Regions from separate parts of the Homo sapiens genome. Here region 1 is linked to region 2. Evidence: fine-mapped expression QTL. Tissue or cell type: testis. Region 2 holds a variant in brackets; the other region holds the start of a gene. All regions are shown on one strand. Distances are from middle to middle.

What was found. PIP is the estimated chance that this variant, and not a neighbour inherited with it, causes the effect.
Region 1: C1orf87 starts here. The variant in region 2 is the best candidate, but not a certain one, in a credible set for the expression of C1orf87 in testis (GTEx, PIP 0.70).

Annotation. Positions count from the first base shown.
Region 1 is chr1:60,072,006-60,076,115 of GRCh38, forward strand. It overlaps C1orf87 (chromosome 1 open reading frame 87), which reads right to left and starts at 1,765. Exons shown (of 12, transcript NM_152377.3): 1 at 1,685-1,765; 2 at 532-665. The coding sequence starts at 638.
Region 2 is chr1:60,006,398-60,010,665 of GRCh38, forward strand. C1orf87 (chromosome 1 open reading frame 87) reads right to left here. Exons shown (of 12, transcript NM_152377.3): 9 at 3,995-4,059. Among named protein-coding and RNA genes, the nearest start is that of C1orf87, 65 kb to the right of the region's middle. The variant C/T (reference allele first, on the strand shown) is at 2,306.

The DNA.
Region 1 (4,110 bases), 66 kb after region 2:
ACAGGAGTGTCATCTCTTAAATGTGACTCTGATGGGTTTGGAATAGAAGAAAGAGATCTTAGCCATGATCTGAGAAGCCCAAGCTTAGAGGAGTATCAAATACAAACAGGAGTAAGTGAAAACCTTACAATTTATGATTCTGTATTAATCCTACTCCTGTAATTCACAACAAATTGACTATTAAACCTCCCCCACTCTCCCCAAAATTAGTACATGTGGTAGATTACAAGCCCGATGAGAAAAGGCAGCAGTGCTCCATTAATATTTATAAATGTCGCAATGCTCATATTTCCCATCTATTTGGAAAATCAGCCCAAGTAATTAAGGAGTATGGGGAATTATAAAGATGAAAAATATCAGGAAAACAGTGCACATGGAAGTTATCAACACGATTTTACCTCTACTGTTGCATCTTAATGACTTCGTTTTCCATGGATGGCATTTTTTAAGTTTAAATTTCTGGGTGAAAACAAAACAATAAAACTTCATTATCATCCAAGCAACATAGATATTTTTCAAATATGGACTTACATCTTTGGCTTCTCCACGAGGTATTGAAAGTGTTTACTTCCAATGATTTTCACCATGATCTCAGGCATTGCATCTGATCCACGGGGAGTCTTCCAGGCTGAAGACATGATTCCTTTCAAAATCCCTTCAGATCCCTAGGGGTGAAAATAAGTAAATTGTTCCTCTTGATTTTCCATTAGGGAACTGCATCATCCTTGCCAATAACAACAAGCAATAATAATAGCAGGACAAAGTGTTTCACCTATATTACCTCACTTAACACTCCTAACAAAGGCATGAGAAAGATATTTTTAACTACTATTATCATTTTTGTTTTACTGTTGAGGAAACAAGCAAAATGTAGCTATATGACTTACTCACATCACATCACATCACCAGTAATTAGCCGACTTGGGAATCTCACCTAAGAGGTCTGTACAGCAGATCTACTGAATCATTAGGTGACTCTACCTTCCTGTACTACAAGACATAGGATGGAATTCCAGTGAGGTCAGAGCAGAAACAAGGGCATTAGTGGGACATATGAAGAATCCATATTCAGTTCTGATGTTTAGTTTCCCCATTTATGAGATCAGGGTAATTCTAGGTCTGTTCTCAGGGACTTGAGGGTGAATCCAAGGAGATAATGCATCTGAAGGGAGACTGTACACAAGACAGACAGACTTTTGTTGTTATCACTGATCTCTTTCTACAACAATACAATGAATCTGAAATTGAACTCCTGCACAAGGTGTTTAAACAGAGTGATGCCAAGGGAAAATCAGAAGTTCAGTAAATCTGGCCACAGCTGAACACTCCCTTTTAGAACCACCCAGAGGCTGAAAGGCCTTTAGAAATCATTCTACTCCAAAGGCTCCTTCACAGATTGGAAAACTAAGGCCCAGAGAGGGTGTGTTATTTGACAAGGGTCACAGAGGAATGAAGGACGGGACTGTTTCCAGTACTTGGGTCTGATGTCTAGGCCAGGGTTCTTCCCAAAAGTCCAATACTAAAGACCTGTGCTAGGGCAGCCCCTCATCCCGGGGACCTGCAGCCTCTTTGCACCTGTCTGGAATCTTCCAGACCCGGAACTCGTGATCCTCAAATCCCCTCCCTGCCCAGCAGCTGCGTGTCGGCCCTGATTGCCCGGAGAGAACAGAGTCGGGGGGCTTACCGCTAGGGCAGCGTCCCCACCCTGGCAGCTCAGAGGTGCGCGGTCCGTGCTTCTCCCCAGGAAGCTGACACTCTCAGACCCGGGGACGGGACGGGGCGTGGGGACCGAGCCCAGGAATCCGGCCAATCACAGGGCCCGCATCGCGGGCGGCGCCTGTTCCGCCCTGGTCGCTAAGGACGCTGAAGGCTGTTTCTGGGCGGGGACCAGGTTTTTCTCCACTGCCTAGGCAATGGACCCAGGCTCTGGCTGCCAACGGGTGAAGAGCCTAGGTGTTTTTGATCTGTGCCTTCTCTGTTCCTCAGAGATATGCGGGCGTCCTTCTAGAAGCCCATCTCGCTCACCTGTGTGGTCACCCTTGTCCCGCCCTTCCTCCGAAGGCTTCATTTCCCTTTGTGAGTTTGCACATAGTTGAGATTCCAACACAGTAGGTTCAAATCCAGACGTCTCCACTGTATGGCTTGAGTAAATCCCTTCTTTTCCCTGAGATTGTTTCCTCATCTGTGAAACGGGGCAAAATAATAACACTGTCCTAACTGCGATTTGGTGACTAAATTAAATAAGAATATCGGCCGGGCTCAGTGGTTCACCCCTGTAATCCCAGCACTTTGTTAGGCCGAGGTGGGCAGATCACGAGGTCAGGAGATTGAGACCATCCTGGCTAACATGGTGAAACCCCGTCTCTACTAAAAATACAAAAAATTAGCCGGTCGTGGTGGTGCGCGCCTGTAATCCCAGCTACTCAGGAGGCTGAGGCAGGAGAATTGCTTGAACTTGGGAGGTGGACCTTGCAGTGAGCCAGGATGGTACTACTGCACTCCAGCCTGGGCAACAGAGCGAGACTCCATATCAAACAAACAAAGAAACAAAAAAACCAGAATATTATAGATTGATAATAATAACGTTGAGTACTGTCTCTATGCCAGATCCCTATGACAAGCTGGATAACTCTCACCTCACAAGTTAATAGTTATAAACAAAATAGTTTTACTTTATTTTAAAGAGAAAAGAAACAAGTTGGGGTATTGATAAACTACTCCAAATCCTGCAAAAGCAAGTACAGAGCTAAGATTAGAATATAGATCTGCATATCCTACATTTCCAGACAGTTGTTATTATGCTAAAAGAAACTTCAGCTGATGCAGGCAAAGACACTTTAGATTGATTCCCAAACGGTATTGTTATTTGCATCAACATAGGCAGCAGCAGCTCCAGCATCTGTTCCCCTGTCTCCTAACCTCTAGCTGTACTGTGCTTTACAGGTGAATATATCACCCACTGGCACATGCAGCCAGAGGTGGACAGCACACTCAGCTCCCCTCCAGGGGCTCACTCTCTAGAGGGTGAGACACACAGCCACATTCTATGATATAGAAAGTGTTAAGGGAGCAGAGAAGCGGGGACAGCTCCCTTCTCACTCCTCCCTCCTAGCCTTCACGTTGCTTCCAGATCAGTCTTCCCAAGGCCCAACTCTGACAAGCCCCCTCCTCTACTCAAATGTCTGAAAGATCTCATCAGCCACAGCAGGTGTCTGTGGTTTCAAGACCTTCCACTATCTGACTTCAAGCTAGATCTCTAGCTTGATCTCCCACTACTTCTCCTAGGCTTGTTATGCTGCATCCAACCCAGTCTACTCACTGGCTTGAATCTCCCTTTCATATCTCTGCCTCAGTGCCTTTGTTCACTTTGTTTCCTCTGCCTATAATGCCCTTCCATTTCTCACTGTGTCAGCCTGCCTATCCATTCTTTAAGTTGGATCTCAAATGATATGTGAACTTGGGAATCAGACACTTTGAGTTCAAATCCTTGCCCTGCTAGTTCAGTGTAATCTTGGGCAAATCACTTAACATCTTTGTGCTTTAGTTTCCTCTTCTATACAATGAGGATGACTTTTTGTGAAGTTTAAGCGAGTTATATAAGAAAGGAACTTAGAAGAATGCCTGACACATAACGAACAATATAAATGTTTGCTCTTATTTTGGAAGAAGCCAAACTGGATTCCAGAGCTGAAAGTGGCTTCTTCATCTTATCTATAACTTGTGGTTTCTCTCTTAGGAAATATGTGTGTCTTTGTCTGAGAGTGTGGTATTTATTTGCTTTGTTTGTCCGGGCTTCTCGTGCTATGCTGTAGAGGGCTGAATAATGCCCCTCCCTCAAGATGTCCACCTTTTAATCCCCAGAACTTGTGAATATTACCTTCCATGGCAAAAAGAACTTTACGGATGTGATTAGGTGAAGGAACTTGAGAGGAGAAGATTATCTAAATTTTTCAGATGAGCCCTAAATGTAATCACGAGTGTCTTTATAGGAGGGAGGTGAGAGAGATTTGATGACAGAAGAGGAAGTAAATGTGACAATGGAGGCAAGAGGGTACAGGGATTTGGGGAAGGGATCATGAGCCAATGAATGCAGACGGCCTCTGGAAGCTA
Region 2 (4,268 bases):
AGTAGTTCTAATTAGTAACTAGTATGAGTATTTTTTTCCTTAGTAAAAGGGAGGCCAAGCCTTCACCATTTTTCTGTTTTCTTGAGTGATAGGTCTTCAAGAAATGTTTGAGGGGTGTCAATGAGCCTCTTACGCTACTCCTCATTTCCTTTGAATTTTCCCTTGTCAGCAGTCATACTGGAACTCTGCTCTTTGCTTTCTGCATCCTCTTCTTCTTCTCTCTTGTTCACAGGCTCCACAGTGAAGAGATTCAAATTTGAGATCATACTTCATTTTTGTGAAATACTATTTTAGACTTTAGACCTTACCATGTTTAGAGGGGCCTAAGCTCTTTTTATATGTGTCTTAATGGGAGTTCATCATATTTCTTAGATCTGTGGCTTAAGGTCTTTTACTACTTTCGGAAGCTTCTCAGTCATAATTGCTTCAACTTCATCTTTATTCTCTTTCTCCTATTTTTCTTTGACTTCAGTTACATGTACGTTAGATGTTGTCACCATTTCCTATGTGTCTCTTGCATACTTTTTTTTTTCTGACAGGGTCTCACTCTTTTGCACAAGCTGGAGTGTAGTGGCATAACCAGAGCTCACTGCAGCCTCGATCTCATGGGCACAAGTGATCTTTCCACCTCTGCCTCCCAAGTAGCTGGGACTACAGGCATGCACCTCTATGCCTGGCTAATTTCTTTATTATTTGTAGAGACAGGGTTTCACCTTGTTGCCCAGGCTGGTCTCAAACTCCAGGGCTCAAGTGATCCTCCCACTTAGGCCTCTCAAAGTGTTAGGACTATGGGTGTGAGCCACAGCACCCAGACTCTTACATACTTTTAAATGTGTTACATCCTAATTTTTCATCCATGCTTCAATCTGGATATTTTCTATTGAACTATATCACAGTTCACTGGTCCTCTCATCAGCAATGTCTAATCTGTTAAACCCATCTACTGAGCTTTTAAATTTTAATTTTTATAAATTTAAGTGTAGATATTCCATTTGATTCCTTTTATAGATTCAAATTCTTTGCTGAAAATTCCCCATCTTGTCATTCATTTTCTTGAACATATTAATTACAGTTATTTCAAAATCTATGTCCTGCTTTACATCATCCATGGCAATTTTTAATTGAAGCTGGACATATTGTATGAAAAACTTAAGAGATTTTGTATGATACCTCCTTTCACAGAGAGCTTTTCTCCCCCTTCTGTCTGGTAGTTCAGTTTGAATTCCAAGTAAGAGTCTTCGAACAAATATTCTTTTGGATTTTATCTAATCTTCTAGTTATTCTTGCCAGGAGGTTTGGCTTGCTGGAAAGTAGACTCTCCTTGTCATTAGTGTAAGTCACAGATATTAAGTATTTATGTGAAAATTATATGTACATTGAAAAACAAGTTCCCAGGATTTTTATGATTCTTAATGATATAAATTTTCTAATAAAGGCAGTATATATAAAATGAGTTATTTTAATTAGGTTAGTATGGCATCTTTGAGTGCAGAGAGGTCCTAGGAAAGAGAAAATTCACAGTTCTACACACCCATAAGGAGTATCTTTTTTAAGTTTCTGTATAATGCCCCTCCTTCACTTTGATAACATTTACCTGTGGAGCTAAAGAATAGACAGAAAAAAATGGCTCACTCAGTGCTTAAGAGCATTTAGTCATCATAGATCCAGCAGTACAGAAACAAGAAGAGACCAAGACATTGACTAAGTAAATAAGCAGTGAGCTATCACAACAACAATGCAACAGCAACACTACCCCAACTCTGTAGTTCTGGAGAGTGACACGTTGCCTATAAAAATTAGTGATGTGTTGCCTATTTTGTTTGTCAGACTCACAATCACCCTATAAGATCAATAGGGCAGGTTTGCATTTTTCTTTTATATTTTGCCCATTTTAGATATGAGAAAAATGAGTCAGAGAGAAATAAAATAAGTGTCCCAATATAAGTTAGTTATTTAGTTGTGTGAGACTTCAATTTATCTTTTTACATATTTTTCTGCTATTCCATATGCTATGGTCTTAATTGTGTATCCCCCACCCCAAATTTATATGTTGAATCCCTAATCTCAAAATCTGACTGTATTTGGAGGTAGGGCCTTTAAAGAGGTGATTAAGTAAAAATGAAGCTGTTAGGGTGGGCTGTAATCCAATCTGACTGGTGTCCTTACAAGAAGAGGAAATTTAGACCTATAGAGACACCAGGGATGCACACACACAGAGGAAAGCCATGTGAGGACACATCAAGTATCCACCTAGCATCAGAAGAGCTACTGCTATAATGTTTTTCAGCATTCTCAGCCCTAGCCA[C/T]GTGTGAAACCTCAGGTCAGATGAACAGCCACGTGACATCACTTCAATGGTCTCCTCATTGAAAATATGATGCTTTGTAAGAGATCCAAGTGCAGCCACCTTCTTAGAGCCTTAAATTATGTCGCAGTCCAAGAATCAGCTGTATGGAATCCCCTCTGAAATCCTTCCTCCAGCTGCTTGGCATTTCCGTGGAGACCCTAGAACCATCTGTGTGGTGACACTAGCTACTAGATTCTGATAGTAATACCCCTTCCTCTATGTTCCCTTAGCCTTAAGGTGGTAGCTGCTTTCTACAGTTACTAATGTCTGGATTACCTCCCTGTAGTGGATTGAATTGTGTCCTCCTCAAAAATATGTTCAAGTCCTAATCACTGGTACCTGTGAATCTGAGCTTATTTGGAAACAAGATCTTTTCAGATGTAATCAAGTTAAGATGAAGTCATTCTAGATTAGGGCAGGCCCTACTTGGAATGACTGTTGTCTTTATAAGATAAAGAAGAGGAACACTTGGATACTGAGATATATAGAAGACAGAAAGAAGAAGGCCTTGTGAAAACAAAGGCAGAGATTGGAGTTACACAATAACAAGCCAAAGGAGGCCTGTGGCTGCTAGAAGCTGAAACCGGCAAGAAAGAACTCTTCTCTAGAGTGTTCAGGGAGAGTCTGGCCATGCGTACACCTTGATTTTATATTTCCAGCCTCCAGAACTGAGAGAATAAACTTCTATTGTTTTAAGCCACCAAGATTGTGGTATTTTGTATGGCAGCCCTGGGAAATGAATATACTCACCATATTCTTTTTTATCCCTCAGCTTTGGATACTTACATAACCAATCCCCTGTAGTAAATTCCCTCTGCTTGAAATACCTAGTAAAGTTTCTTAGGTTTTTCCACTTGGATACAGACTGATATATTTAATCCCGGACACACACACACGCACACACACATGCGTGCACATTCAGTACTTTAATTTTGATCCAAAGGGCAATCAGTAAATGGTTGATGGATATAGTAAATAGAAAAACTACAACAGCAGATTAATATCAATGCATATTTTTTCACCTGTCATATTTAAAACTTGCTAATTGCTAAATATTTTCCCCAATGCATCGTTACAATTTTCACTTAATAATATGTCTTGGAAATCTTCCTGTAGCAACCCAGCCATGTTATTTTACAACTGCATCGTTTTATCAATTGGTTATATTGTAATTTAATTAAATAGCCCACGAAGGATCTTTCTGCTATTTCTGTTTTTAAAAATGTTTACCAAAAAAACCTATACACTAAACATATATATACATCTCACAGGTCTTTTTTTTTTTTGTGGAGACATCAGTGGAATAAATACCTAGCTATGAGCTTCTTTGATCTAAGCGACTGTGCACCTGAAATTCTGCTAAATAATACTAACTTCCATAAATGTACTGCATTCATCTATAAGGGCTACCACTAGAGAATGTCTCATGATAAAACTTGGAGAATTGTGCCTTTTATGATCCAACTGGCCTAAAAGAATAGCCATTAAGGTGATTCTAACCCCCATTTTTCCTTCACTGGGGAGCTATTTACATTTCTGAGAGAAATGAGATGAAACCCAACAAGCAAACCACTCAAACTAGGCAGCATAGTCAACAATAGCTGTGAAAAATGGAAGGTCTCTCTGGAGCAAAAAAATAATGGAACTCACCTGTAGGCAAATCAGATAACAAATCAGAAGAAGCTCTGGTCAGCATCTCAACAAAATTCTGCCATCTGTGCAAGAAAAGGAAACATAAATTGGTGATCAATATGATTGCCCTGAAAGAATGTCCAGTGAAGCTCTGTTTATATTGGTAGTGATATTGAATAAGCTTTTTGATACTTCTATCATTTAAGGTCCAATGCAGGAAACAGAAACTACTTTGTATATCTTTATTAAAAAGGGCTTTGATATAGGGAATTATTGCAAAGCCATTAGAACA